Linked DNA regions of Homo sapiens. The gene in region 1 interacts genetically with each later gene. Each region holds a gene or a part of one and is shown in the gene's direction. Other genes may lie near its edges.

Region 1 (2,865 bases):
GTTTTTACAAACAAAGCTGCAGTGAATATCCTTGTATGCTCATCTTTGCTCACATGGGCAAATTAGTATATCTGGTAGGATAAAAGTCTAGAACTGGAGTTGCTAGGTCAAAGGGCATGTGCAATTAAGTTGACACCTCTTGCCAATTAATAGCACTTATACTAATTTATAACCCCTCCAAAATATGTGTGAAAGTACAGGTTTTTTCCTTATCCTTCATAAGCAGAGTACAGTTAAGTTTTTGAACTTCAATAATGATATATGTTGTTGTTTAACTTTATTTCTTTAAATTATTAATAAGTTTGAACACCTTTTAATGTATTTATGGGCCAGTGATATTTATTTTCATGTGAGCTTAACTGTTCATGTGCTTGGTTCATTTTTCTTTTTAATTTGTTGTTTTTTTTCCTCATTGATTTTTTTTCCTTTAGAGATGGAATCTTGCTATGTTGCCCAGGCTGGCCTTAAACTCCTATTCTCAAGCAGTACTCCTGCCTCAGCTTCCTGAGTATCTGCATTGATTTTTAAGTGCTTCTTATACCTTAAGATATTCCTTTGTTGAACGTGTTGAAAATATTTTTCCTAGTTTGTCATTTTGTCTTTGACTTTTTTTGTGCTTCATTTTTCCTTGCAGAAAGATTTAATTTTTATGTAGACAAATATAAATCTTTTGTTTTTTGGGCTTAAAAATTTTGTTTCTTGCTTAGAAAGGCCTTGCCCTCTCAAATAATATCTTAAGGTTTAAGAAAGCATCCTGCATTTTCTTCTAATGCTCATGTGTTTTTATTGTAATTAGAAAATATGCCCTGCACTTTGGGAGGCCGAGGTAGGCGGATCACTTGAGGCCACAAGTTCAAGACCAGCCTGACCAACATGGCAAAACCCCGTCTGTACTAAAAATACAGAAAAAAAATTAGCTGAGTGTGGTGGCACATGCCTGTAATCCCAGCTACTCAGGAGGCTGAGGCATGAGAATCCTTTGAACCCAGGAGCCTGAGGTGGTAGTGAACCAAGATTGCACGACTGCACTCCAGCCTGGGTGACAAAGCGAGACTCTGTCTTGGGAAAAAAAAAATACAGAGAAGATTGGAAAATATTAAATGTCCATGAAACAACCATCCAGAATGAATAAATTTTTTATGAAAAGTTAAAATGTCTATTGTTAAATCTTTGATCTATATGGTATCAATTTTATTGTGAGGACTGAGTATGGAATCCAGCTTGGTTTTTCCCATCTGGCTAATCAGTTCTTCAGATGCCGTTTAGTAATTAGTCCATCATTTCCCCATCATTTGAAATGCTGAATTGGGGTTGTTAACCCTTAGTTATAGATTACAGATACTGTCTACTCATCTGTTTTTGTCTTTAACTTGGTTTATGCCTTTTTTCACTAGGTAGGAGTTAAAACTGGGGTCCTTTTTAATGCTTTCCAGGTGACACCCATTTTAAAGGTGGATGAACTTTGTTTTACAGACCAAATGTCCTCGTCCTTCACCAGCAGATAGCGACTGGGCTGATTCACCAACAGTTAGCGACTGGGCTGATTCGCCAACAGATAGCGACTGGGCTGATTCGCCAGCAGATAGCGACTGGGCTGATTCGCCAGCATAGCGACTGGGCTGATTCGCCAGCAGATAGCGACTGGGCTGAATGTAGGAACTAGGTGCTCTGACTCCCAGGTGTGATTGTAACTGTGTTGCTGACTTTCAGTCTAAAAACAGTAGCTTGGCACATGGGAGTGAGCCTGGTGAATCTGGACTCCATGGGCCAGGAGGCATTTGGATTGAGAGGGGAGGAGCCTCTTTTCAGGAATGGCTCTAGTCCTATTCCTAGGGATTGATTTTACCTCAGGGCCAGATCTTGCAGGGACCCCCTATAATTTTGGGAGCCAGAGTAAACAGATGGCTGTATCCTTACCTTCCAATTGTGATTTTTCTTTCCTCCCTCTTCAGAAAACAACATGGAAGCCAAGTTCCTAGGAAATGCACCCTGTGGGCACTACACATTCAAGTTCCCCCAGGCAATGCGGACAGAGAGTAACCTCGGAGCCAAGGTGTTCTTCTTCAAAGCACTGCTATTAACTGGAGACTTTTCCCAGGCTGGGAATAAGGGCCATCATGTGTGGGTCACTAAGGATGAGCTGGGTGACTATTTGAAACCAAAATACCTGGCCCAAGTTAGGAGGTTTGTTTCAGACCTCTGATGGGCCGAGCTGCCTGTGGACGGTGCTCAGACAAGTCTGGGATTAGAGCCTCAAGGACATTGTGTGATTGCCTCACATTTGCAGGTAATATCAAGCAGCAAACTAAATTCTGAGAAATAAACGAGTCTATTACTGTGTTGGTCTCAGCTGATTTGCCCTTTGATGGCCCAGTGAAGAGAGCCATCTCTTAGGGTGTCTTTCCATTTTTTTCCCAAGGTGATCACTGAGTACTGGATTATATTACAGTGCGTCACTGAGTTACTGGGCCCAGGAAGAAAGGACAGAAGGAAATGAATTGACTTCCCGAAAGCCTTGAATTCTGTGAAAGCTTCTCTAGGCCCTTGGGAAAAAACTAGTTCTATATAGTTTCTTAGCCATTTCCAGTTTGTTTTTCCTTCCCTCTGCACTTGATATGAAGGTGTTTTAATCTAGCCTGGGAAATAATCCTTCCTTCTTTCCCCCCCTTCCTAAAAGCATTTTATTTTAAAAAGAATTGAGTTATGTCTTAACCTTTTTTGAAACAGTCATGTGAAATGTGCAGTTAGTTTATCTCCATTCTACAGATGGAGGAATCACGGCCAGGTTGTGACTTAGCCCAGAGTCATACTGCATGTGCCTGTTGGTGCTAGAGGAGAATGCTGACCCCAATGCCCCTCACCTCT
Region 2 (3,659 bases), on another chromosome or scaffold:
CATGGAGTAGAACTTCCATCCCAAGCAGATGAGGATTTATTTAATCTCAAAGACCTCCAGGAGGGGACATTCCCCAACTGTCCTTGTTAACTCATTTTCAGAACATATTTATTAGCATATTTTACATGTAATTTGGATCTTCATGTTAAATTTAACATCAGTGGAGATGGAAAATAAGCATATCGCCTTGTCTTTGAAATAGCCCTATATTGTTAGATTGTTTCTTAGGCTTCTTTACCCTGGGTTAAGCAGTCCTAATACTTTAGCATTTATTCTACATCTAGTGTACTAATTTAAAAAAATCAGTTCTGAAAAATTTCTAAGAACTTTCTTCAAGTTCCAAGCTGTGAAATCTAGAACAGGTCAAAGTGCCTTATTAACGTACTGTACTGTGTAGTGTCTTGAAGAGACACTTTGCGCTGAGGCAAGTTCTGAGGGCATTGGGTGGCCTTGGGAAGATATTTATGCAGTTTAGAACCTGGAGAATTGATTAGATAACTAATCATAAGGAAACGTCACATATTTTTGGTACTATAAAAAAGTGGAGAAATAATGCCTATTTGCAAAGATTTGATTTAAACATAGAAACAACTTTATTTGGCTTCCAATTTTAAGAATTTACAGCAGTAAAGGGGAACAGTCTAATTGAAGTAGACTGCCTATGCAATAGTCTCTGTATATTTACTTTTGACAAGTTAATTCAATGTGTACTATAGTTTTGTTTCTTTGAAGAGGTTTGAATAGTGCACCCATTTTAATCTGTATTGCAAATTCAGGGTTACTTGGCAGACTCTACTATTTAAATCAGATGTAAAAGGAAGTTTTAATATAATTCACTTTATGCCTGAAAGTTTTCCTGGGATTTTGGAAGGTGATTTTACTGGAAATGCTGTCTGTCTTCCCTGAAAATCTGAGAAATTCCATTACACTTTGTTTCCAATCAGAGGTCATGAGTGCTATATGAGTATATACAGCATGACGTCATGAATGTGATAAAGTGGGTTAGGAAACCTTTTGCTAATGATTGTTAAAATGCAATATAAATGTTGAAGAAATAAAGCTAACAGTTAAGCCTTTATTTGGGCGGAAGGCTGAAAAAGTTTATAAACTTAAACCTATAACTCTGCTTATGATTTCTGCCAAACCAGAAGACTTGACTCTGGGAAGCATTGGTTACCTGTGAACTTTGAAACTGACGGTCCCTGACGTAGTTTAGTCACCTGGGAAAAGGTATCTGAGATTATCTCTTATCTCCCAAGTTACAGTGAGTCTCTGAGGGAACTGACACATTACATTAAGTTCTTGGTGTAGTTAAACTGTAAGAAAGGCAGGAGAACTTAGTAGTTAAATAGTTGGTTAAATGGAAATGCTGACTCCATGTTATTGTAAAAAGTTAAAAATTTAGGAGGATATGGGGATTTCACTGCCATTGCAGGTTTTGATTGGTATTTACCAATCCGTGTGGGTCAGAGAGAAAATTAGAAAGGATATGACTGCACATTTTGGAATTATTAGCAGTTTTTCTACATTTAAAATGGAAATAAATTTTTTAAAAATTTAAATCAAGTAATACTGTATTTTTTGGTGATTTAGATTTTTCAAAATTTACACTAAGAGATAGTAAGGAGGGTGGCTATTGTTTCTTTCAATAATGTCTCTGAGAGGTTGTAACTCATCTAAGGATACGTAGCTAATAAGTGGTAGGATTTCAATTTAAATTCTCTGAGACCAAGTTAAGTAGAATTTGCACTGTACTCTTGTATAACTTTTTAAAACTGAAAATTAGCTATCTTTCAAATTAAGAAAATATTTACTAATGGAGACTAATTCAGATTTGTAAGTATACCAAAATTTGAACTTAGCCTGCTATCTAATGGCAACTTAGTGGCAGAGGTATGATGTAAAATCATTCAGGTATGACACATAGATGGAGTATGTTTGTATTCGAGGCTGTGCACATAATCACCTTTACTTGTATTGTGAAGTATATATTGTTATCTTTTATGAAGCCCACTAAAGAGATAATGAAATACCTCGTTATTAGGGCAAGATTATTGAAAACTCAAAATAGCCCCCAAACACAATACTTGGCTAGAAATATATACCTTTATAGTTCAGAGATCATTTATTATCAAAACCCTGAAGTTTTTTTTCTAAGGTAAAATTTGGTGGAAGAGGAAAAGTCTCGTTTTAAAAAAATGTAGGTAGTTACAGAGATCAGAATGATTAGTTGATCACTTACCAAATATATATTAAGTATCTACTGTATATAATATGCTAGTAAGAATAAATATAGCAGGAAGTATTTTTTCCCAGGCTCTAATTGTTTGACATCAGCATGCTTTTATTGTGGCACTTATAATTCAGTTCAAGTATTATGCCCCTCTTTGATGGAACAGTTTCCTATTCAGTAAGGAAGACCAGATTAATCATTGGATTGGTTTGTTTCATCTTTAGTGTTCTGAGCTGTAGAGTATTTATTTACCAAGGTTTATTTTAATTTTTATTTTATTTTTATTTTTCCATGTTCATTGTAGAATTCATTTTACCTACGAATGAAGTATGTAGATTATAGAGAGAAAATTTGTAAAATTAAACTGATACTGAAGACTGGTATAAGAAAAGCCTTATGTAATTTGTAAGCTGCTATTCTTCTGAGTTTATACATATATCTTTAGTAATCAATGAGGGATGGTTGGGTGACTGCCCTCCAGGGGACATTTGGCAACATCTGGAGATGTTTTTGGTTGCCACAACTTGGGGAGAGAGTACTGCTACTGGCATCTATTGAGTAGATGCTATTACTTTAAATGGCAAAGCTGCAGTTACCTTTGCACCAACCTAATATTAAACTTCCTGCAGTGCACGGGAAAGCCCCCACAACAGGGTTATCTGACCCCAAACCTCAATGGTGTTAAGATCCAAACCTTGATATGTTAACCTGTAGCTTTAAACATCCTTTAAATTGTCAAATTCATGTCCCTGACATAAGGTTTATGTTAGATTTTCAAGTATAACAAAGATTTAAACTTTAACTTTTGTACGTTAATGATATGTTAGCTTACTCCAGTCTTCTATTAAAACATTCTGTTTTTAAAATCAGAGACACACAGCAATTTTATAAATCATTTCTCTTCAAGGCTGTGAAGCTCTCCCCACTTTTGTGAGTGCCCTCTACTGGTCAAATTATTTGCTTTATAACAAGTAACAGTGAAATCCTAAGTTTGTGTAGTTTCGCTGTTTAAATTATGGGTGGCATCAATTTATAAATATATTCGTTTTATTTAAAAGTCTTATATGATTGATTTCGTATCATTTTTGCTCTCTGCTAATATTAATATAAAGATTACTGTCTGTATTAGTTAGGCCTAACTAAGTAGGTGAGTATAGTGAACTAAGAAAGGAAACGAGGCAGTATATAAGAAAATAGGGTGGTTCAGTTGTTAACACTTACTGAGCTTACTTTGTTGAAGGGACTAAAAGGCAGCAGTGTGGCTCTCTGAGCTTCTTTGCATGCACTCAGGAGCTGCTTAATGGAGTCCAAGGCTTGGTGGTGTGTTACAGGGGATGATAGGAGGGTCCTATTCAGAAGTGGCAAATTGTGAAAGTGCACATTTTGTAGAGTTTTATAGGACTGTAGAATAGTTGTGAGCACCTGA

What was found. Genes that interact genetically often act in the same process or in processes that back each other up.
Region 2: changes in MRPL46 (region 1) and KRAS are lethal when combined (synthetic lethality), as found in Homo sapiens cells (2 studies listed by BioGRID, with this or other methods).

Annotation. Positions count from the first base shown.
Region 1 is NC_000015.10:88,458,951-88,461,815, reverse strand, and holds the end of MRPL46 (large ribosomal subunit protein mL46), read left to right. Parts: intron 1-1,952; coding exon 1,953-2,203; 3' UTR 2,204-2,338; downstream 2,339-2,865.
Region 2 is NC_000012.12:25,240,888-25,244,546, reverse strand, and holds part of KRAS (GTPase KRas), read left to right. Parts: intron 1-3,659. UniProt on the Homo sapiens protein: Ras proteins bind GDP/GTP and possess intrinsic GTPase activity. Plays an important role in the regulation of cell proliferation.